Linked DNA regions of Homo sapiens: all the other regions are linked to region 1. Evidence: fine-mapped expression QTL. A gene starts in region 1. Each other region holds a variant in brackets. All regions are shown on one strand. Distances are from middle to middle.

Region 1 (8,179 bases):
ATCATTTCAGAATGCATATATACATCAAAACATATAAACCATAAATAAATATAATTTTTATTTGTCAATTTACCTTAGTAAAGCTGGGTAAAAAATTAAAAAATGTATGTAAACATGTTCAATAAATTGGAACTGGTTTCTGGGAAGATTAATATGGTAATACTAAGTAGAAGATGCTTGGGTGATAAGTTATTTGTAAATTATTTCAATAAAACTCTGAGGCTAGTCGTGGTAGTTCATGCCTATAATCCCAGCACTTTGGGAGGCCAAGGTGGGCGGATCACTTGACCCCAGGAGTTCGAGACCAGCCTGAGCAACATGGCGAAACTCTGTCTCTACCAAAAATACAAAAATATAGCTGGGCGTGGTGGTGTGCGCCTGTAATCTCGGCTACTGGAAAGGCTGAGGCAGGAGGATCGCTTGAACTCAGGAGGCAGAGGGTGCAGTGAGCCAAGATGGCACCACTGCACTCCAGCTGGGGCGACAGAGCAAGACCCTGTTCCAAAAAAAAAAAAAAATCATAAAACCAAAAAACCTCTGAGGAAAGGGGAACGCTGAAAAAAAATCAAATACACATGGATCAAAACACAGAACTTTGTTTTCAAACTTAAAAGTTTTAGCTTATATCTGAATAGTTACTCAAATATTTTAGAGAATATTATGTGGAAGCCGAGTTTCAGTAGTGTCGAACAGTCCTAGTGGTCCTTGGAGTTTACCATAAATACATTTTTTTATTATTCAAAAATAATGGCTACCAGCTGACATCTGGATAGCACCTGCTTTGTGCCAAGCACTGTTCTCAGGACTTTCCACTTTTTACTTGTGAATCACAGCAATTCTATGACTGTTCCCATTTTAAAGGGAACACACAGCATTAAGTCTCCTGTCCAATGTGGCAGTCAGCAAACGGAGGAGCTGTGATGTGAACACAAGTGGTGGTCAGGCTCCGAGTCCTCACTCACCACCCACCTGCCATCCAACCCTTACGAGAAAGGGCTGCAGAACCTGCAGAGATGGGACCCAGCAGTGCAACACAGCGGCGCTCAGCAGAGCTGCAGCTTCTCAGGCCCTCCCTTCCCAGATCCTTCCTGGGAGTCTTGGGAATGTCCAGCTGGGATGGGACTGCCCCATGGAATAAGGGATTTTATCCTTTCCTTACTTTTCAATCATCTGACTCCTCTGGGAGTCACCTCCGGCATCTTCTGAATTTATCCATCTTTAACCTACCTCTCCCTACCCACAGCCTCCCCTCAACCTCTGAGCCAGAGGACGTTTCTCCCACTTAAGGGAAAGCACCCTTTCCCTCCTTTGGCCTTCCAGAGCCCTTCATCCATCTCTCTCTGCACCTCTCCTTTCCCGTCCGGGCTTATAGTCTCCTGTGTGTGTCTCCCCAGGCCTCTCAGAGGTACAGAGGGTCACAGGTCTCTTCTGACAATTGAGTGAGTATGAAAAACGCACCACCGTCACGTGCATCTTGGGTGTGTGTGTAAGGGGAAGGGGGTTCTTCCTTGGTTGCTGTAGACTCCCCATGGAAGCTACAGCCTCTCCTTTCCTCAGCCCCATTTCAGAAAGGAGAGGCCAGAAAGCGTTTCTGATGCTTGTGGTCTCTTTAGAGGATTCACCCTGTTCCCTTCACTCAATCCCAACCCCGTGTCACCAGATGTATTCACCCCTACGCAGGGGGAGGTCAGTCTTTGCAAGCTTCTGACACATTTTGGGACACTGAGCTGGAATATGGGGGTGCTGGGGTGGATTGAACACTGAGCAACTCAGACTTGGAATCCCAGCATGAGGCTCGGGCGCGAGGGAGGCGCTGGGTCTAGACGAGGCCTTGGTGACTTGAACAACAGGCATATTGCTGCCAACAAAGATGGCTCCAAGACCAGAGGCCTTTCCTGAAGTTCTGTTCTGTGTAAGAAGGTGACTGACAAGGCAGGGCCACAAGGACTGGGGCACCAGGCAGAGCCCCAATAAGTACTGGCCAAGGAGACACTCTCACATTTCATAATCAAGGTCCTTCACTACCCTTGGGAAACAAGGCCACCAGCCAGGGTCAGCTGTGTACAGTGGTAAGTAAACAACACTTCTCCTTTCTGTCCTCCCCAAAATTAGGTTTGTTCTTGGCCACTGAGGCTCCACCTGAATGGTGGAAAGAAACATGTCGCAAGTAATCCAGAGAGAAAACAATGCATTCACAGGGAATTAACAATGGATTCATTCCTCTGGCTGTTTCATCGACTTCTTTTTTTTTCTTTTTTCTTTTTTTACCTGAGCCAACTTTGTTTTTCTTGTTCCTATGACCTTCACTGTGCCCCTAATTAAACAGGGATGGGCTTTCTATCATGTGAGGCTGTCCCGTCCTTTTCCTGATTCTATGTGGCCACGTTCCTTCCCTTCCTTACCTTGCCAGTGCCATCTGTCCTCAAGCTTCTGTACTTGCAGTTCCCTCTCCCTGGAATTCTCTTCCCCAGATGTGTCCTTGGACATCACCATCCACTCATCCAAGTCTCAGCTGAAACAGCACCTGCTCCTACAGGCTGCCTTGGGGGGCTTACAGGCCACTGCCCCTGGGCAGGCCATCTATGACAGCATTCAGCTGTTGTGAATATTTTGTTGTTCTTTGCAGCAATGACCACTTTCTCATACCTCTGATATATCTTTAGTCTTGTTCTTTGTGTCCTTCATTAGAAAATAAGGTCCACAGGAGCAAGCACCTGGTCTAACCTGTTTCTATAACTGAATCTAGTGCAAGGCCCAGCTCACAGGAGAAGCAAAACAGTGATGCGTACAACAAGGGATCCACGCATGAATGCAACTGCCATTTATTCAGAATTATCTCATGCTTGGCTGCGTGATTAAAAATTTACAGAGCGTCGGCCGGGAGCGGTGGCTCAAACCTATAATCCCAGCACTTTGGGAGGCCAAGGTGGGTGGATCACGAGGTCAGGAGTTTGAGACCAGCCTGGCCAACATGGTGAAACCCCCATCTCTACTAAAAATACAAAATAAATAAATAAATAAATAAATAAATAAATAAATAAATAAATAAAAATTAGCTGGGCGTGGTGGTGCACACCTGTAATCCCAGCTACTCAGGAGACTGAGGCAGGATAATCGCTTGAACCCGGGAAGGCTGAGGTTGCAGTGAGTTGAGATCACGCCACTGCACTCCAGCCTGGGCAATAAGAGTGAGACTCCATCTCAAAAAAAAAAATTTACAGAGTATCTCTCATCTTTACAAAAATTCACGGCCAGGCGGGCACGGTGGCTCACACCTGTAATCTCAGCACTTTGGGAGGCCGAGGTGGGTGGATCACCTGAGGTCAGGAGTTCGAGACCAGCCTGGCCAACATGGAGAAACTCCGTCTCTACTAAAAATACGAAAATTAGCCGGGCCTCGTGCCACATGCCTGTAATCCCAGCTACTCAGAAGGTTGAGGCAGGAGAATCGCTTGAACTCGGGAGGCGGAGGTTGCAGTGAGCCAAGATCGTGCCACTGAACTCCAGCCTGGGCAACAGGGCAAGACTCTGTCTCGAAAAAAAAAAAAATTCAGCATCACTTATACCCGTTTCACAAAGACAGAAAGGAAGCCCAGAGGGACCAGCATTGTAATTTGCCCAAAGACACAGCATGAGTACGTGTGGCCTCCAGGATCCACACCCACACCTGCCCAAATCTTATCACCTAAATCTCATCATCACCCAACCCCATTGCCACCCACTGCCTAGCACTGCCTGCCCAAGCAGTCAGTTACTCCACTCACTCACAGCATCCTCTCAGTCAGTGGATAGAAAACCGTAAAAGGCTAACAAAGAACTAAGCACAAATTAAATTATAAATATATTGTAAAATAAATTTGTAAAGTTGAATTAACTTAGTGTTGTAATTCTTAACAAGAATAACAAGAAGCTTTCAGTAGAGGTTAGATATTAATGTTTTCCCCAAAACTTAAAGCACTTTTCGGGGCTGGGCATGGTGGCTCACGCCTGTAATCCCAGCACTTTGGGAGGCTGAGTGAGGTGGATCTCCTGAGGTCAGAAGTTCGAGACCAGCCTGGCCAAAATGGTGAAACCCTGTCTCTACTAAAAATACAAAAATTAGCCAGGTGTCCTGGCGCATGCCTGTAATCCCAGCTACCCAGGAGGCTGAGGCAGGAGAATTTCTGGAACCCGGGAGGCGGAGGCTGCAGTGAGCCAAGATCGCACCACTGCACTCCAGCCTGGGCAATAGAGTGAGACTCTGTCTCAAAACAACAACAACAACAGCAACAAAACCCCAAAAAACAAAAACAAAAAAACCCGCTTTTCTGAAAAAGAAATGTCTATGGATTAGGAAGGTCTGCCTCCCATAGGAAGATGCAGGTATTGCACATAGCCCAAATATTTGATGATTCCAGGACCGGCAGATACACAAGTTATGAAACTGTTTGTACCTTGAAGAATAACGAGAAGAGGAGGAGACCAAGAGGAATAGAAGAAAAAGAATAGAAGGAGGAGGAGGAAGAAGGGAAGGAGGACTAGAAGAAAACTACAATAATAACAACATTGTTGAGACCACAAGATCACGCCACTGGGTTTTGCTTTATATTTTGGAAAACACTGTCACATCCATTTTACTAAAAGCCATGTATCATTATTGTAGTCCCCAGATTGTCAGGGATCCAAATATTACTGCCTTCTTGGTTTCTACAAACAGAGCACAGGCTGGCTGTGTTCCCATTGGTGTACACTATTGTGTCCTGGTCCCATGCCAGGTTGACACATTGCCTCATTCCTGGGAGGGACTAAGGTGCCTCCCTGGGGAATAAATAGAGCAGGGCTGGGTACTCACCTCCACAGCAACTTCCTTGATCCCTGCCACGCACGACTGAACACAGACAGCAGCCGCCTCGCCATGAAGCTGCTGATGGTCCTCATGCTGGCGGCCCTCCTCCTGCACTGCTATGCAGGTGAGTTCTGGGCAGAGAGGGCTGCTTCTGGGCTAGGAATTGTCACCTGGGCCCCTGTAGAAGAACTCCCAACCTCTAATCCCCAGCACAGACGAGCCCCAGTGTGAAGGGCCTGGGTGCGATAGGCCTTAGGATCCCCATGAGTTCCTGACAATCAAGCATGCAGTGTCCTCATGGGCTGTCCCCTGCATTGGAGCTGCACACAGTGTATCATGGCACTCAGCGTCTCACCATGGTCACGGTGACCATAGAAACCAGGATGAGTCTCAGGATTAAATATTGAAATGAACTATTTCAGTGGGGCAAGGGAGAGATGGCATCTACACCTAGAAATCAGGAAATAATCATGGGTCTCCTTGAATATGGAACGAAATAGGAAACCTCCCAGGACAGAAGGCCCAGGCTGCAGAGTGTGACCCAGTGTCTCTCACCCTGTGTGGCTCACTCTGTGTTCTCAGAGTTGATCTGGGTCCTTCTGGGATGCCCTTACCCTCCCAGTTGCTTCAGGCTCAAGGCAGACAGGTGAGAACTCACAACCCCTGGAGTCTCCTTCCAGCACTAAAGATTCAGTGGGAGGAAAAAGCCCCGGCTGCTGGAATCAGCGCTAATATTTCCATAGGTAGCCTGCCTTGTGCAGTTCACAAAGGTGGATTCCAAACCCTACCGTATTGGCATCCAAGGTAGGTGCAGATGTGTAGAAGGGTGACAAGCTCACAGTCAACTAACTGGAAAATCACAAAGTCCAGAGCACAACCAGCTCACATGAAGCCACGTCCTGAGCTCGTTCCTCTCCCTTACAGTGGGAGGTGACCTCAGATCCCCTCATGAACAAGCTCTATTTCACATTCATGTGTGTGTGTGTGTGTGTGTGTGTGTGTGTGTGTGTGTGTGTTTGAGACAGGGTCTTGCTCTGTCACCCAGGCTGGGACTGGGACTGGTGTGCAATGGCACAGTCTCAGCTCACTGCAACCTCTTCCTCGAAGGCTCAAGTAATGCTCCTGCCTCAGCCTCCCGAGTAGCTGGGACTACAGGTGGACACCACTATGCCTGGCTAATTTTTAAATTTTTTGTAGAGATGAGGTCTCCCTGTGTTGTCCAGGCTGGTCTTAAACTCCTGAGCTCAAGCAATTCGCCTGCCTTGGCCTCCCTAAGTGCTGGGATTACAGGCGTGAGCCACCATACCTGGCCACACATTCCCTTTTATTGCAGTAGAGTCAACAGAACTAATGGACAATGTCCTAGACCCATTCATCTGAAATCCTTGGAAACCCTACCTGATGCTGGGCATGATAACAGGGAAGCATTGCATGACTTTGAACCAAGAAAGTCCAAGTAGTGTTTGCTATGTCCCCCCAGTCAGAACACCTCATTTCTCGAGGGTCCTCTTCACCAAGAATACACAGGGTTGGGCTTCTCTGGGTTTGGAAGGTCAGAGAGAATTTGCAGAGCCTGAGTTTACACTCCCAGAATTGAGAACTCTGCATACTGCACCAAAATCTTTCTGAACCTCGGTCTGTCCCTGGAGGTACGAAGATAGCCAGCTTCCCAATTCATCTGTAGAATGAATCACACCTCTAGTAATGGCCCATGTTCTTGTGTCTTTTTTTTTTTTTTTTTTTTTTCCAGATTCTGGCTGCAAACTCCTGGAGGACATGGTTGAAAAGACCATCAATTCCGACATATCTATACCTGAATACAAAGAGCTTCTTCAAGAGTTCATAGACAGTGATGCCGCTGCAGAGGCTATGGGGAAATTCAAGCAGTGTTTCCTCAACCAGTCACATAGAACTCTGAAAAACTTTGGACTGATGATGGTAATTTGGGTTTCTTCTTATGTACCCTTTGAAAATCACTGATCAGAACCAGCGGGCTCTAAATTTGGCACCAAGAATGCCAAGCAACTGGTGAACAAACTTTCTTTATATATCAATTCATTAAACTTTGTCTCCAGGCTGCTTTGCCACTTCACATTGAGAATCTTTAGGGAGTGATAAATGGAAAAGGCAAAAAGGAGAAAAGAAAGCCTTAGAGATCACCCGTCTACCTCTGACCTCACCAGTCCCTTCTCACACAGACACAGACACACATAAGCACACAAGTATAGACACACACAGACACACGGGGACAGGCATCGGCATTTTTTTTTTTTTTTTTGAGACGGAGTTTCGCTCTGTCACTCAGGCTGGAGTGTAGTGGCGTGAATCTCGGCTCACTGCAACCTCCACCTCCCGGGTTCAAGAGATTTGCCTGCCTCCACCTCCCGAGTAGTTGGGATTACAGGTGTGCGCCACCACGCCGGGCTAATTTTTGTATTTTAACTAGAGAAGGAGTTTCACCATGTTGGCCAGGCTGGTCTCAAACTCCTAACCTCAAGTGATCTGCCTCCCTTGGCCTCCCAGAGTTCTGAGATTACAGGTCTGAGCCCCCGCACCCAGCCAGAACATGCACATTTTTATCAAGAGAAAATATCTGGTTCTCAAGAGATCACACACTTGTAGGAGCAATCTACTAAGAAATTTCCTACTTTCACAAAAACAAATATTCAAAACATTCTTATTTTTTTTTATCTAGCTCAGAAAATACAATTTGTGCAAATTCTGCATTTTCTAAAATAAAGAAAAAAATTTTTTTGAGATGGAGTTTCACTCTGTTGCCCAGGCTGGAGTGCAGTGGCATGATCTTCGTTCACTGCAACCTCTGCCTCCTGGGATCAAGCAATTCTTGTGCCTCAGACTCTCAGGTAGCTGGGACTACAGGCATGTACCACCATGCCCAGCTAATTTTTGTATTTTTAGTAGAGATGAGATTTTACCATGTTGGCCAGGCTGGTCTTGAACTCCTGACCTCAGGTGATCTGCCCGCCTCGGCCTCCCAAAGTGCTGGGATTACAGGTGTGAGCCACTGCTCCCGGCCTAAAATAAAGAATTTAAAATGCAAGTCCAAGCAACCAAGATTTGTTAGCATACATGACTGGAAGTCATGCACCACTTAATTAAGTGCCTCATGAAGTGGGAAGTGCAGATTATGGGTATGAAACAGCACGAGTGCTAGAATTGTTTAAAACAAAAGTCAGTGGTTATAACAAGGAGTATTTCTGTCTGTTTATAAAGATGTGTTGGTTACGAGTTTTGTTTTTTGTTTTTCGTTTTTTTCGAGATGGAGTTTAGCTCTTGTTGCTCAGGCTGGAGTGCAATGGCACGATCTCGGCTCACTACAATCTCCGGCTCCTG
Region 2 (8,179 bases), 39 kb after region 1:
TTACCAAAAGAAATATGAAAAATCAGCTGGACGTGGTGACATGCACCAGTAGTCTCAGCTACTTAGGGGGCTGAGATGGGGATATCGCTTGAGCCCAGGAGGTAGAGGCTGCAGTGAGCCATGATTGAGCTACTGAATTCCAGCCTGGGTGACAAAGGGAAAAAAAAGAGTTTGGCTGTTGATATGAAGTGCTTTCCTTTATTGTGAGAGCTTGAGGAAGTCACACCTGAAGGGTCTGGCATTGTCATCAGCACAACAAATGTATGTGAACATATAACCCAGGGGATCCTGTCTGGTCTAACGTCAGGGAGCCAAAGAGAAAAATCGACTTTCCTAACATCAACTATATTTTTATTCTTTTGCTGCAGCCAATGCCGAGTTCTGCCCAGCTCTTGTTTCTGAGCTGTTAGACTTCTTCTTCATTAGTGAACCTCTGTTCAAGTTAAGTCTTGCCAAATTTGATGCCCCTCCGGAAGCTGTTGCAGCCAAGTTAGGAGTGAAGAGATGCACGGATCAGATGTCCCTTCAGAAACGAAGCCTCATTGCGGAAGTCCTGGTAACTTCTTTCTCCTTTATTTGTTAAGGCTTCTGGTCAGCTGCACAGTATGAAGTGAGGTCAGCTTGCTGCTCTGTTGGGGACACAGGTGGTGGGGCAGCTGCCTTGCTGGTCACCTCTTGAGAAGGTCACCTGGGGCCACAGGGTGGGTGCCACCATTTCACCTGCAGAATTCAACTCAGCTGCACACAGCCTCCTGCATGTTCCTCCTTCTCATGTCACCTGCCTGGATGCCATGTCCCCAGAGTGTGCTGAGGACATGGGGAGTGAGCCTGGGCCCAGGCAGAAATGGTAAAGGGCCAAGCATGGCCGCCTCGCTGCTGGGAGCTTTCCTGAGACCAAACTGCCCTCATGTAATGGACACAGTCACTGTGGAATGTCCTGGGGAGCATGGGAGCCTTGAACAGGGAGAGGAAGGCAGGGAGGGACATAGAGCAGGGGCTCCTGCAGATGTAGCACTGGCAGGCTGGACTTCTCTGCAGCTTCTGCAGAGCCAGGAAGGAGCCCCTCCCAGCTCCTGAGACCCCATACTCCCCTCCACACCCACGACACTCTCCTGACCATGGCCAGTCGTCCAAGACCCTAGCTAGTCTACCTCCTGCAGTGCCATGGAAGCGGGATGTTCTCACTCTGTCTTTCTCAAGAAATCAGAGGTTTTCCAGGGGCCTCTCTGCCTGGCTGCCTCTGAGTTGCTGTCCTGAGGTTTAGCTGCAAATGCTCATGGAAGCTGCAGGCTCGGGACTGAGAGGTGCTCGGGCCCTGAGGCAGAATTCCCACATGGGGAGGCTGGAGTCTCCTGGAAGCCAAGCTTCCCAGAAGCCCTCTCAGCCCTGACCAGCCTCTCAGTCCTGGGTCCCTCACTGCAGGAACCAGGAGACTCCAAGCCCTGGGACAGCCCAGGCAATAACCTCTTGCTGCTCTCTCCAACCCTCGTCACTTGCTTCCATGAGGATCCTGGGCCTCATTCCCGGATCACCCCAGGGCTATTGGCCTGGCAAGAAAAGGCTGCTCCATCACCGGCATGGGTGCTGTGAGGCCACCAGGTCTAGGCCTCAGTTTCCCAAACTGAGTTGTTGCCTCTGCCCTTCCAATTGCCTTTGGGGGCAGAATCCCACTGGCCTCTTGGATGTGAGCCTGTCACCTCCAGCAGCAGCATGACTGACCCCACCTTCTTTTTTCTTTTCCTATTTTAGGTGAAAATATTGAAGAAATGTAGTGTGTGACATGTAAAAACTTTCATCCTGGTTTCCACTGTCTTTCAATGACACCCTGATCTTCACTGCAGAATGTAAAGGTTTCAACGTCTTGCTTTAATAAATCACTTGCTCTCCACGTCTCCACTGGTCTTGTTATAATCCTGCAGTCTCGAGCCTTGAGTACAGGGTGGTTTCCATAGTGGAGTGGCCTTTTGCTGTGGGTGATAATTAACTCCAGAGAACCAGCATCCTGTTACTAATGGGGCCTGAGTCCAGGTGTCACAGAGGAGAATATTTGGTAGGAATTATCCTGCATTCCTTACAGATTTCCCATCTTGCAGCCGTGAATAAAAACCATGGTAACAAGGACACAGGAATTGAAATGTTCCACTGGTCTTACACTGAGAGAACCCCCAGCCTGAATGGGTATCCAGGCCGAGGGTTCCCACCTATCAGTGACTTTACTCTGATGTCCCCTCAGACCCACAGTCAGCCTGCTTGGTGCTCTCTCTGCACTATGCTTTCTGTCCTCCGTCATGTCCAGTATACTTCATTTTCCACTTATCACAATTTGGGGTCCTCTTTAGGTTTCAACCTGGAGTTCACATTGTTTTACTCCCCACGCTCAGAGCACTCCTCAGCGTCTGCATCACTCACCAGCACCTGAGGTGAATGCTTCCTTCCTCAAGCTCTCCCAAGAGCTCCAGAGACCAGCACCCCCTGACAACTGGACAGCTCCCAGTGCGCACTCCACAGTCATTTCAGGAGCAGGATGTAAAACTGAGCACAGGGTCTGCCCCCAGCCTGCTCTCCCTTCCATGAGCCCATCCAGGCTAAGGCACCCACCCAGCAAGCACCCTGACCAGGACACAGAGAGACACCACAGTTTCCCTGCTTGGTGTCCTGTGACTACTGGAACAAAAATCTGCAAACTTCATGGCTTAAAACGACTGATTCTCAGGCATCTCTGGGGGTCAGAAGTCCAACATTAGTATCACTGTGAAGACGTTAGGGGGCAGCAGGGCTCCGCTCCCTCTGGGGACTCTTGGGGGGAATTCACTAAGGGTTGCTTCTGGCTTCTGGGCTAATAATTGTCCTGGTCCTGTGGCCACATCACTCCAACCTCTGCCTCCATGATATGTTCCCTTCTTTTCTTTCTACATCAACCCCACCCACCTTGGCTTTTTTTTTTTTTTTTTTTTGAGAAGGAGTCTCGCTCTGTCGCCCAGGCTGGAGTGCAGTGGCACCATTTCGGCTCACTGCAAGCTCCACCTCCCGGGTTCACGCTGTTCTCCTGCCTCAGCCTCCCGAGTAGCTGGGACTACAGGCGCCCGCCACCATGCTCGGCTAATTTTTTGTATTTTTAGTAGAGATGGGGTTTCACCGTGTTAGCCAGGATGGTCTTGATCTCCTGACCTCGTGATCCACCCACCTCGGCCTCCCAAAGTGCTGGGATTACAGACGTGAGCCACCACCCTGACTTTTAATCACAAAATACACAGGTTTGGTTTTGGGACCCTGCAGATTATTCAGAATAACACCCCATCTCATTATGTTTGATCGTGTCTGCCAAGTGCTTTTTTTGTCATATAATGGAACATTCACAGATTTCAGGAACTAGGATGTGGGTATCTTTCAGGGTGGACATGAGGCAGCCAATGACAGCTCCCCTCCCTCCTGACTCCTAACAGTGCACTATGTTCTATTCCCTCCATTGCCCCAGAATCACCTTTACGAGTTCCTTCTTTCCCATCACACAGTCATATCACAGTCTGGTCTATGTCCTCCCCAGCTCTGACCAAATTCTTCTACATTGTCTTGCAGCCTCTATGAACTCTTCTTACTATACATCCTCCTCATTCATGCCAGGGTAAGTCTCCTAAATTTAAAATGTGATCCTATTCTCTTTTCAACAACTCTAAATGACCAGAGGGCACTGGTTCTCAAGGCTTTCAAGTAAGGGAAATTATTTTTTTACCCCAAGCCCATCTTTTTATGATAATAGTCACCATTACACAATTGGCAGGAGAGTAGATAACAGTTGTTATTAATTAAACATTGCTTTTAAAAGAAATTTGTATTTTAATCACACCAGAAATTATGTACACTTAAAAATAGAACCAAGATATATCAAACTTACTATCAGCAGGCATAGCGTGCTGTTGTGTGTGGCAGATACAAGGATTTATGGAGCTCTCACATCACTGGGAGAAAACCAGAGAGGAACCACTGCTGGAGGAGCGAGTCCACACCCTTGTGTTGCACACAAGGACCTTCAAGACCTGCTTCTGGGAGCCTTTGTCTCCTCCTCTCCTCTTCCCTGGGGCACTCTGTGCTCAGCCATACTTGTTTATATCTCATTTTTTGGGCCTCATGTGAGTCACACCCCTGCATAAGTGCATAGGGGTCTCCCTTTCCCTGTATAGCCATCTCTCACGATGACATCTGACAATCTCATCTATAGAATCCACTTCATATGCCTCCTCCTCTGTGAAGCCCTCTCAGATATCCACACCTTATATTTTATCTTTATACACATGTGCACCCACATGCCTAGACATTCCTCTTTTATTATCAGTTTACCTTTCTGTTATATAGGATGCATATCACAGCATTGTTGTGAGAACATATTAAATACATTAATACTATAAAGCACTCAACAAATTATAACAATCATTATTATAATGCTTACAACTACTAGAAGTTTCTAGTCATTGATCATCCTGATATGCATTTTGTTGGAAGAATTCCAAGTTCTCTCTCACTTCATCATCAGTAGTGCCCAAGAAGGTCCAAGATTGTTCCCACTAATGAACATGAGAATGACGAATGCCCTACCCAGTGGTCCTCAACCCTGGTTCTGTTTTGGAATCCACTGGGAAGCTGTCAAAATCAAGTGATGCCCAGGCTCCATCTAGTGTATATGTGTCTATCTCTGTGAAAGTAGAGCTCCTGCAGTCCCTGTTCTTGTGCCTTCAGCTCTATGGGTGCAGTCATCCAGTGACCTGGGGAGGCAATATCTGGGACAAGAGTCCCTTGTGATACTCACAGGACTCCCAGCATCACCAGGGCTGTGACCTGGAGGCCTTTTCCTTAGCTACTTTCATCGCTTTTAAAGATTGGAGATTGC[A/G]AAGTGCTCACTCTTTTCACCATTATACAGCTAATCACATAGGGATCATCTGTGGTAAGGTTTTCCTTCCTGAGTTGCTATTAAAAGAGTGTGACGTGAAATTCAGTAAGACTGCACAGGCTGGGGCAGGGAGGGAGGGCATTAGGAGTCATTATTTAAGGGCTATTGAGTTCCTGATTGGGATGATAATAATTTTCTGGGAAGGAATATTGTGAAACGTTGTGAATGCCTTTAAGGCCACTGAATTATACACTTAAAGATGGTTTGAAAAGGGCAGGGCATTGTGGTTCATGCCTGTAATCCCAGCGGTTTGGGAGGCTGAGGCAGGTGGATCACGAGATCAAGAGATCGAGACCATCCTGGCCAACATGGTGAAACCCTGTCTCTACTAAAAATACAAAAATCAGCTGGGTATGGTGGTGTGCACCTGTAGTCCCAGCTACTTGGAAGGCTGAATCAAGAGGATTGCTTGAGCCAAGGAAGCAGAGGTTGCAGTGAGCCGAGATCGCGCCACTGCACTCCAGCCTGACAGAGTAAGACTCCGACAAAAAAGAAAAAAAGCACACACAATAAAAAAAAAACAAAACAAAACGAAACACTCTAAGGGTTGCTGCTGTCTGGGAGGCAGCAGGAAGATACCTGTGAAGGGGAGCTGGGCCTGTATTTTACCTCTGGACACACCCCCCCCAAGACCTGTCGGCATCCCACAGTCAGCACTTCTCTCCAAGTCCATGCTCTCATTGATTCACTTCCTGGATTGCTTCTTTGATGGAGGTATCACAATTTCTAAGAAAATCTAATCCAGAAACCTGAGATTGAGGTTTACCAAGGATGTAGGATTCACCCATGCAGGGTCTCCAGACTTTTACCCCTTAAGGCTGTCTCCCATGACCATTGAACTAAGTAGAGTCTCATAATTTCCCCCCTGGACAAATATTATCAATCTCTGCCTAGGCTCTTTTTCTCAAATATCTTGTCCCTATGATCCATCTGGCATTTTATGATAAGCCCAATATTCTTTTTTTTTTTTTTTTTTTGAGACGGGGTTTTGCTCTTGTTGCCCAGGCTGGGTTCAAGCGATTCTCCTGCCTCAGCCTCCCGAGTAGCTGGGATTACAGGCATGCACCACCACGCCCAGCTAATTTTGTATTTTTTAGTAAAGATGGGGTTTCTCCATATTAGTCAGGCTGGTCTCGAACTCCTGAATTCAGGTGATCCACCCACCTCGGCCTCCCAAAGTGCTGGGATTACAGGCGTGAGCCACCACACCTGGCCTGATAAGCCCAATATTCTGATAACAAAGCTTAGGTTTTGTTATAGGCATCTTTAAAGTATATCTTCAATGGATCTCAATTTTCTTTTAATGAAATAAAGCTCAATATCTCAATTCATAAATTAGAATATTCAAGTTTTTGTAATAATCACAACCTCACATTGTTTAAGAATACATGTTGTTTTCTTTCTTTCTTTATACTTCCATCTATTCTCTCCCAATGAACTAACCATGGTTTCTGACAGAGTTAGAATCTAGGAAAAGAGGAAAGAGAAGGAAATCAGAAAGCTCTGAATTAACTTGCCCTTTTTTGTGATTGGTTCAGGCTCTCTGGGTCTGTCAGATGTTTTGTGTCCTGGACAGTTCCATGAGTGCTTCTGAAAGCCCACACTACCTAGGTAATTTTCTAGAATAAAAAGATTGAAAAATCTATAGAAATCCACTGATTTCCCATACCAAAACAATTTTGATCATATTTTGGAACATCATCTTAAATAAAAGCCCCCCACTTTTTTTTTGGAAGAAACAGCTAGACACTTACAAGAATGGAGAATAATAATGGAACCAACACAAGAACAGGAAGGCAGAGCAGTAACACTCAGAATTCAGAGTATTTCAACCTGTAATTCTACACAGATGTGAATCTACATCCAGGCTACAATTATTCAAGCATGAAGACAAAATAAAGATATTTTCAGGCATGCAAATCTGCAAACATTTTATCACCAATGAACTTCTTTTCAGAAAGTTATTGTAGGATATGCTCCACCAAAAAGAAGTAGAACAAGAAAGGCAAAGATGTGGGATTGGATACACAGGGATTATAATAGGAGTTACTGGATACATCAACAGAACAGCGAGAAAAGATTATTGAGAACACGGAAATACCCCCACAGGAAAACAAGCTGAAAGTGAGAATGGGACTGGGAGGTCTGCAGAGGAAGGGCAAGGAATAATCACTTTTAATAAAACACTTTTTTGCATTATATTCCTTTTCAAAACATGCATCTATATCAACTTTTTAAAAATTAAAACTGTAAAAAAAAAAGGATGTTGGAAAACAAATAAAAAGGAAAGGGAGCATAGAAGAAAAGGGGCAAAAAAGTGGGCAGAGAGGAGATAATTTGGCAAAAAGAAGTTAAGAAGATGCAAATGGCCTCAGGTCAAAGCAGAATCTACACCACACTGTACCATGGAGGAAGATAGTATATTTTGCTGAAAGAATTAATGAATTTCCTTAAAGAATTAATTAGCAAGTTGAATGGGAAGACAGGACGTAGAACTAAAGAAAGACACAATGTATATCACTGAGATGAGATCTTACTACACAAATTAAAAGCCTGCAGACATTCAAGGAAATATCAAGGAAGGCTTGCAGAAGAGGTGATGGCTGAGTTGGACCATGAAGCACCGAGAAGATGAGGATGGCAAGCAGAGGAAGCAGGGCCTCCAGGTGCATGGAGCAGCCTGGGCAAAGGCATGGACAGAAGGCTGAGCCAGCCCCCTGGAGGACAAAGATGACCACACTCCTTTTGGCATCTTGAAGGCTCACAGATATTTCTCTAGCACAGGGTTTCTCAATCTTAGCAGTAGTGACATAGAGGGCAAGTAATCCTTTCTTGTGGGATCTGTCTTGTGCATTGTAGGAGGTTCAGCAGCACCCCTGTTCTCTGCCCACTTGATGCCAATAGTATCTGGGCTGCCATACAGCTGTGACAACCAAAAACATCTCCAGACTAATGTCTTCAGGGATGGGGAAAGTTGGGAGTAGATGTGTCCTAGTTGAAAGTCACTGCTTTGGAGTGGGAAACCTTGTCAGTTCTGCTATACAACTATACTAATACTTCTAATGATCAGACTTTCACAAAGTTGGAATTACTACAGGTACAAGAAAATAGGGACATTGAAAATAAAACAAATACCAACTTGATGATGAAAATGTTAGTGCAGATATTTGAAGAACCAAATCAGCAGTCATACATGTACAGGATTAACTTTTAACCACATACTATAGGGAAATGTCA
Region 3 (8,179 bases), 81 kb before region 1:
TGAGCTCAGGCAATCCACCCGCCTCGGCCTCCCAAAGTGCTAGGATTGCAGGCGTGAGCCACCGCGCCCGGCCAGAGATTCTTTTTTTTTTTTTTTTTTTTTTTTGAGACGGAGTCTCGCTCTGTCGCCCAGGCTGGAGTGCAGTGGCGGGATCTCGCCGGCCAGAGATTCTTTATAGGACATATTAGTCCTTGTCTTTCCCCCCCCGCCTCCATATTGGAAAGATGAACTAATTGAAATATGACTTAGTAAAAACATTGTGCCAACTTGAAACCTTGATTTAGTAAAACATCTCAATGTTTAGATCCTTTGTCCAATGGTAGTATTTATCAGATGTATTCAGCTTGCTCAGAAAACCAAAAGGGCATTACAACCACAAAAGCAAAGAAAAATAAGAAAACGTCCCATGTTTGGATCTTGTTCTACTTGTAAAGATTAAATTGAAATGATTAGGCTTTTCGATTCATGAGCCAAATACCGTAACACCCTGGCCTTTGATGGGTTTGGATTTTTAACATTACTCCTGAGATTTCAGGAAGTGGGGTTACAGTTACACTCCTTATAGCTGCTAAGTGTATTAAGTTGAATGTAAGGATGCATAATATTGTTTGAATTGAGCCCCACTACCAATTCTTTAAAAAATGGCATGAATTCCTATACGTAAATGATTTGGTGGAACTATTCCATCATAATTTCTAAATTGTTTATATACCAAGGTAGCCTTAATTTGTATATGTTTCAGTACAATGAAATTTTACTCCCTCTGGGATGCTGTTTGGTTTGTATTTTGAGGAATGTTTTTCTCATGGGAAGAGGAACCTATGACTTCTGTACCTAGATAATTTGTTACATTAAAAAGCTGGTCTTTCAGCAATGTAAGTATATACATACATGTTTTTATGAGGAAAAAAAAGCAGCAGAGATCAGAAGACTGCCACCGTGCTTGGAGAAGAAAGAAAGCCGCGCGTGGCCTTCGCAGTGCTCGCCGGGACTCGTAGTTCCAGGTCTGCGGGCTCCTCCCAGGCGGGGATCTACTTCCTCTCTCGGCCGCGGCCGCAGCACCCGGAAGCTGAGGGGGCTTAAAGTCTTTCGCTTCCTTTCCCCGCCTCTTAGTCCCGCAGATTGCTAGTGGATATGGCCAATAGGAGGGCTGACTGGTACTTCCTGTTATTTGATTGGCTTAAAATTTTGCAACCGCCCGGACAAACTTGCCGAGGATTGGCTGAGCCTTCAGTTTTGAAAATCATAGTTTTCGCCCGCGCTGCGCCGCCTGGTTGCTCCTCCCGTGCGGTGAGTCCCGAAGGCCCGGAGCCAAGTGGGTCTGGGCAAGCGGGGCCTTACCTAGGGATACCACCGGACTTGGATCGGAGCAGCCTTCAGGGGACGTGGCGCAGTCGAGTGAGTGCGCGTGGGCGTGGGGATTGGGGGGTGGTTCGCGATTTTTTCCCCGGTCCTCTGCTCCGTCCCTGTCGACTCCGGACCAGGGTCGTGACTCCCCACCCCAGCCCCTGGCTACCTGGGCATATGAGGGTCACCTCTTCCAAGTGGCGAGGTCGCCTGCCTTGGTTCTCGGGCCCGAGATGCCTCCCACCCTTTCCACCTAGGCCCTCAGCTTCCTAGAGCATAGCCCCGTTCCCTCCGCTCCCGGCTGCTTGGCACCTTGTGCCTGTGAGGATTAGTGTTGACTTGGACGCGCAGGAAGCCCGAAACCAACCCGGTTGTTTGGCGGAATGATGCCAGATGGCATTTCTGTGCAGTTAAACCCCTCTCTCAACGCCCCCGCCCCCAGCTGAGCAGCATTTTAAACTGACCATTTCCGGAGGCTGGGCCGCCCCTTGTCACTCCCCAAGCCTGTTCGCTGTCAGCGGTTCAGTCTCATTCAGCTAACATGGGTTGCTCGCGGGGTTGCCCAGAGCCAAGACTGGGCACCTGCCTTTCAGAAGTTGATATCTAGAAGGCGGTATAGCCAGTGGTTAAGGGCACGGTTTAAAGGCGGTATAGCCCGTGGTTAAGGGCACGGTTCTATTTATGCCCCTGATTTACCGGCTGATTTTGACTTCTCTTTGCCTCAATTTCCTCATCTGCCCATGCGTATCCTCAAGGTTGTGGTGAGAATTAAATGAGATGATGTCTGACTCGGGCATGGAGTATGACTCAGTAAATGGGAGCAGCTGCTATGCGCTTTCTGCACAGAGGTGTGGTAGGCGCCCAACTTACAGCACCCTGAAAAGGACAGGAGTCATAGAGGAGGACGATGGGGCCTTCAGTCTGGTGTATGGTGTGGAAGAAGTGTTGGAGAGGAGGAAGACTGGAGAGTGTCTTCCTCGGTGAGGTGTTGAGTGCTCTTTATCTGTGTGCAGGTGCTTACATGGGTTGAAGAAGAGATTTTTGCTGCTCTTCCAGGAGCCTGATTCTTGGTACACTGATTCCTTCTTTTTCAGGGTCACCTCTGTTTTAACTTACGGTAACCCTTTTTAAATCGTTGCGCTAAGGTCTGCTAGAAGCAAACCTCCCCGTGAAAGAAGTCCAATTGCTTTCATGGACTTTGTGAAAGAAGCTCTCATCCACGTTGCCCATTTGAACAAATACTTTTTAAAAAGTTAGCCAGTTGTTGCTTTTCTCTGCAAACCTTTGGCTTCCTTAAACAGTTTTCTCTTTTCTGGCCTGAGGTCCTGCGCTTTGCCAGGGCTGTGGTCTGGGTGCAGAAGGGTTAGGGGAAGGTGAGGGATGACAGTGAAAAGGGCTTGCCCATGATTGGCTGGCTGCAGAGCCGAGGTTTCAGCCCAAAGCCTGTACGATCCTGCCCATTTGGCCCTGCCCTGATTATTGCTGCCCTTGGCATCTGGGAACAGGGGTTTTGAACATGTGTTGGTCAGTTCTAACCTGTGCAGATTAAGTTTATTTGGTGCCCTTTGTGTGGTGGGATGAGCACCTATAGGATGTTTATTTCTAGGTGTAGAGTTGATGGGTGGATTAATTCATTTAACAAATAGTCCTTGTTGCCAGGCACTGCTGTGCTCTGGGCATTCAACGATGAGCAAGACAGACAGGGGTTTGCCCTCAGAGAGCAATTGTTTAGTGGGCAGGGACAGGCAGTAAGCAACAGGTAAACAAGCACGCAAGTGCTCTGCAGAGAATTACAATCAATGAATGGGATCATGGCTGGGGCTACTTTAGATTGGTTTTCAGGTTTTCCTGAGGATCTGAGATCCAAGCCATGAGGAGTGAGCCATACAAAATGTGAGACAATGTTCCAGACGCAGGGCAGAGCTTGTTGAGGAACAAAGACTACTGTGTCCTTGAATCAAGCCTGAGGAAGTCCCATGAGACTGAAACCTGACCTGGTGCTACGCCCTGTGAGGGATCAAGGGGTCAGCAATTTATCCCTTCCTTACAAGACCTTCCATTGTAGGTGGGAGGCTGAGTTGTGCATGGTTTTTTTTTTTTTGAGATAGAGTCTCCCTCTGTTGCCTGGGCTGGAGTGCAGTGGTGTGATCTTGGCTCATTGCAGCCTCTGCCTCCTAGGTTCAAGCGATTCTCCTGCGTCAGCCTCCTGAGTAGCTGGGATTATAGGCGTGCACCACCACACACAGCTAATTTTTTTGTATCTTTAGTAGAGACTGGGTTTCACCACGTTGGCCAGGCTGGTCTTGAACTCCTGACCTCGTGATCTGCCCACTTCGGCCTTCTAAAGTGCTGGGATTACAGGCGTGAGCCACCGTGCCCGGCCAGTTCTTGGTTTTAAAGAGGTAAGTCAGGATGGTGGATCACTGCCATTGACTTGAGGCATGCAGTTTGTTGTTATGGCTTATGACCACCACCCATTCATTTGTTCTTTCACTCATTCACCTGTTGGGATATTTAATGAGCCCCTGTTGTGATGTAGTAGAATATGGTTGTCTCTTGGAATCCTCAGGGGATTGGTTCCAGGACCTCCTTTGGATACCAAAATCCACAGATGTTCAAGTCCCTGATATAAAATGACATAGTATTTGCATATAACCTACACACATCCTCCTGTATACTTTATATCTCTATATTATTTATAACACCTAATATGATGTAAAAGCTATGCAAGTAGTTGTTATACTGTATTATTAGGGAATAATGACAAGGGAAAAGAGTCTATACATGTTCAGTACAGATGCAGCTCTTTTTCAAATATTTTCCACTGGTGGTTGATTGCATCCATGGATGTGGAACTCACAGATATGGAGGGCTGATTGTACTTCTTCCTTGCTTGAAGTTTTTGTAATGGCTATCAAGTTTTTTGTTTTGTTTTTTTTTTTTTGAGACAGTCTCGCTGCGATGCCCAGGCTGGGGTGCAATGGTGTGATCTTGGCTCACTGCAACCTCCACTTCCTTAGTTCAAGTGATTCTCCAGGCTCAGCCTCCCAAGTAGCTGGGATTACAGGCGCACACCACCATGACCAGCTAATTGTATTTCTAGTAGAGTTGGGGTTTCACCACATTGGCCAGGCTGGTTTTGAACTCCTGACCTCATGTGATCTACCTGCCTCGGCCTCCCAAAGTGCTGGGATTACGGGTGTGAACCACTGCACCCGGCTGGTTATCAAGTTTTAAGGAGGATACCTGAGCTGCTAGTTTTATAAGAAAGTGAGAAAAAACTGTTTTTGTGTTTTCTCTTGCTCAATGCTTGTAGGCAAGTTTTCTTAAAAGCAAGATATTGCTTACTGTTCCCTTCTTGTTCTATTTATGCTCCATTTGGAGGGCATTTCAGCTCAAGGGAGAGGGTTGTGGGAGGCCCCTTGAGGGCATATCTCTGGATCACTACTTTCTCACTCATTCCTTTGGAACACAGAATCTCTTCTGCTCACTGGCCTCTTAAAGAGGCAGTTGGG[T/C]TTGATGTTCTTTGGCCTGATGTCTGGAGTCAGCTTGTATGTAGTGCAGGGTGGCTGTGTCTTAGCCCTCACTTAACCATGAGTAGTAAGATGAGGGCCTACTGGAGAGCGAGAGCAGGACTGTGTTTGGGCAGGGAGTGAGGGGCCCTGGGGTGGCCAGGAAGACAGATGGCAGTGCCCTGTCATCTTAAGCCCAGAAAAGGCCATTTATAAGGAGGACTGTCAATGTCAGAATTGGTTGGGAACTGTGGACTTATGGGGACAGTCATGCTGGCGGGGGGGTGGGGACAGGGAGGTATTTGAAGAGTGTGAGTAGAAGGGCTTCTCTTTGTAGAGATGAGGCTAGGGGATGAGTGTTTGGAATTCTGCAGCTCTGGGGAGTGGCTGTGAGCAGAGAGGGGCCCTGGTTCGGGCACTGGGTGTTTGTGGTGGTTGTGGGTCAGGTGGGTATTGCAGCTTGGAGAAAGCCCCAGACCCCTACCCTGGGCCCCTAACTTGTGCCTCTTGTCCCTGCCTTCACCAGACAGAGCCACCATGGGGACGACGGCCCCAGGGCCCATTCACCTGCTGGAGCTATGTGACCAGAAGCTCATGGAGTTTCTCTGCAACATGGATAATAAGGACTTGGTGTGGCTTGAGGAAATCCAAGAGGAGGCCGAGCGCATGTTCACCAGGTGAAGACGGGCACAGTGAGAGGCTGGGAACACCAGGGCCTGTCTGGGCTGCTTTGGTCTTGGGGACACAACAGCCCCTCGTCCCCGCCTACCTGGCAAAACAGACAGCCTGTCAGGGCTCCCTGCTGTATACTGTGTGTGCAGTGTGCTGGGGGCCTGACCTAGTGTCATGGGAAGAGGCAGCAGGAGAGATCCAGTCCCTTGCCTATTCGCCATCGTTGCTGGCTGGGCCTCTCAGGGTATGTGGCAATGGACGTGCGCCTGGGAGCTTGCTTCCCTGCCGTGTCTCCAGGAGGAAGCCCTGAGTGCCCGCAGGTGACTTGCACATGGCCTTGGAGAGCTCACTTGGTGCTGGACACCCCAGCTTGACCTGTCGCTGCCAGGAAATGGGCAGGGGCCAGGCTGGGTGGGAGAGGGGACCAGTGGTTCCCAGGCAGCCTCGAGTGACACCCTCCTTGTGCCAAACAGAGAATTCAGCAAAGAGCCAGAGCTGATGCCCAAAACACCTTCTCAGAAGAACCGACGGAAGAAGAGACGGATTTCTTATGTTCAGGATGAAAACAGAGATCCCATCAGGAGAAGGTAGGAGGGGTTGGGGGAGAGTGAGCTGAGCAGTGGGCTCTGCGGAGGCTTGGTGCCATCTGGGAGTTTGATTCTGAAGGTGTTGATTTGGAAGTAGCAGCCTGTAGGAGGGGTGGTGGGTACCACCGCGGGTACTGCGTGGGCCATGCTGAGAGGGGTTGGGATGCCACAGGGAACTATAGCTTGACCCAAGACCCTGGAGTCCAAATCTGTGGCTGTGTGTTGGGGGTGGGTGTGTTTGATCTGGGCCCTGGAGAATGGGAAAGATTTCCGTAGGTGGGATGAGAAAGAGAAGCCATCCTTCTGTTAGGTGAGTGTGACCAGGGGTGTAGACCACGTGCCTTGTCCCAGCCGTCATATTGTCATGCTTGTTTTAGTCCCCCTCAGGAATGATTGGGGCTGCAGAGTGCTAGGGAAAGAGGCTGGGTCTTGGGGTTAGGCTTGGGTGTGAACCCCAGCTCTGCCCCTTAGCAGAGCAGTACGGCTTTGAATTGAATTTCTGCCTCTCTGAGCCTCCGTTCCTCATCCCTAAAATGGGGATAGTGGTCTCTGCCTCTCAAGGGCGTGCTCTGGATTAAGGCAGAGCGTGTGTAAGGCTTTCAGCAGGGGCTCGGTGTGGTGTAACTTCAGTCAGCCGGAGGTTTGGATGAATATAATCTTCCTAGCCAGTTCTGTGCGGACTGTGGCATGATCCCCAATTTACAGTTAGGAAGACTGCGGCTCAGACAAGAATGGCCTGGGGCCTCATGGCTAGAGGTGGCAGAATCTGGCCTGGAACCCAGATCTTTTGCCTTCACCTTCTCTTATCATACTCTATCCAAGCTGGTGGCTCTTGGAGAGACTGGGTGCCACCCTGTCCTGCTGCCCGTCTCAGCCTCTGCCCTGCTGCCCCTGCCAGGTTATCCCGCAGAAAGTCTCGGAGCAGCCAGCTGAGCTCCCGACGCCTCCGCAGCAAGGACAGTGTAGAGAAGCTGGCTACAGTGGTCGGGGAGAACGGCTCCGTCCTGCGGCGTGTGACCCGTGCTGCGGCTGCAGCTGCCGCGGCTACCATGGCATTGGCTGCACCTTCTTCACCCACCCCTGAGTCTCCCACGATGCTGACTAAGAAGCCCGAGGATAACCACACCCAGTGCCAGCTGGTGCCTGTGGTGGAGATCGGCATCAGTGAGCGCCAGAATGCTGAGCAGCATGTCACCCAGCTCATGTCCACCGAGCCTCTGCCCCGCACTCTGTCCCCGACTCCAGCTTCAGCCACAGCTCCAACCTCCCAGGGCATCCCGACATCAGATGAGGAATCAACACCTAAGAAGTCGAAGGCCAGGATACTGGAGTCCATCACAGTGAGCTCCCTGATGGCTACACCCCAGGACCCCAAGGGTCAAGGGGTCGGGACGGGGCGGTCTGCGTCTAAGCTCAGGATTGCGCAGGTCTCCCCTGGCCCACGGGACTCGCCAGCCTTTCCAGATTCTCCATGGCGGGAGCGGGTGCTGGCTCCCATCCTGCCGGATAACTTCTCCACGCCCACGGGCTCTCGCACGGACTCTCAATCGGTGCGGCACAGCCCGATCGCCCCGTCTTCCCCGAGTCCCCAAGTCTTAGCCCAGAAGTACTCTCTGGTGGCCAAACAGGAAAGTGTTGTCCGCAGGGCGAGCAGAAGGCTTGCCAAGAAGACTGCCGAAGAGCCAGCTGCCTCTGGCCGCATCATCTGTGAGTCTGGGGGCTTGGCAGTGGCGGGTGGTCCTTGGTGCCAGGCTCAGATGGAGGCTTTCTGAGGGATCATCTAGCAAGGAGCTGTCCAGAGAGCTTTCTGCAGTGAGGTAGATGTTACACATCTGTGCTGTCCTGGGATGGTGGCCGCTAGCTGGCCTCATCTGGCGATTGTGTCCTCAAAATGTGGCTAGTGTGATTGAGGAACTGAATTTTAAATTGTATTGCATTCTACTTCTTTTAGATTTAAATAGTTACATGTAGCTAGTGGCTTCCACGTTGGATGGTGCAGGTCTGACCCAACCTACTTGCTTTACAAGTGAGGAAACTGAGCTTCGGGAAGGTCGGCCACTG

Alleles and levels. Positions count from the first base shown, and alleles are read on the strand shown. Sizes are in standard deviations (SD) of each study's normalised expression. Not every link is listed here.
With allele T in place of C in region 3, the expression in thyroid of the gene that starts at base 4,836 in region 1 is lower (moderate effect, 0.60 SD a copy in GTEx).

What was found. PIP is the estimated chance that this variant, and not a neighbour inherited with it, causes the effect.
Region 2: its variant is fine-mapped to the expression of SCGB2A1 in sun-exposed skin (GTEx, PIP 0.95).
Region 3: its variant is fine-mapped to the expression of SCGB2A1 in thyroid (GTEx, PIP above 0.99).

Annotation. Positions count from the first base shown.
Region 1 is chr11:62,203,838-62,212,016 of GRCh38, forward strand. SCGB2A1 (secretoglobin family 2A member 1) reads left to right here and starts at 4,836. Exons shown (of 3, transcript NM_002407.3): 1 at 4,836-4,949; 2 at 6,576-6,763. The coding sequence starts at 4,895.
Region 2 is chr11:62,242,921-62,251,099 of GRCh38, forward strand. SCGB1D2 (secretoglobin family 1D member 2) reads left to right here. Exons shown (of 3, transcript NM_006551.4): 2 at 369-556; 3 at 1,750-1,892. The coding sequence ends at 1,779. Among named protein-coding and RNA genes, the nearest start is that of SCGB1D2, 4.8 kb to the left of the region's middle. The variant A/G (reference allele first, on the strand shown) is at 4,883.
Region 3 is chr11:62,122,766-62,130,944 of GRCh38, forward strand. It overlaps INCENP (inner centromere protein), which reads left to right and starts at 1,246. Exons shown (of 19, transcript NM_001040694.2): 1 at 1,246-1,398; 2 at 5,386-5,536; 3 at 6,005-6,118; 4 at 7,017-7,825. The coding sequence starts at 5,397. LOC124902681 (a long non-coding RNA gene) reads right to left here and starts at 946. Exons shown (of 2, transcript XR_007062697.1): 1 at 892-946. RefSeq lists enhancers at 857-946, 1,477-1,546, 1,536-2,117, 5,600-6,099, 7,126-7,627. The variant T/C (reference allele first, on the strand shown) is at 4,863.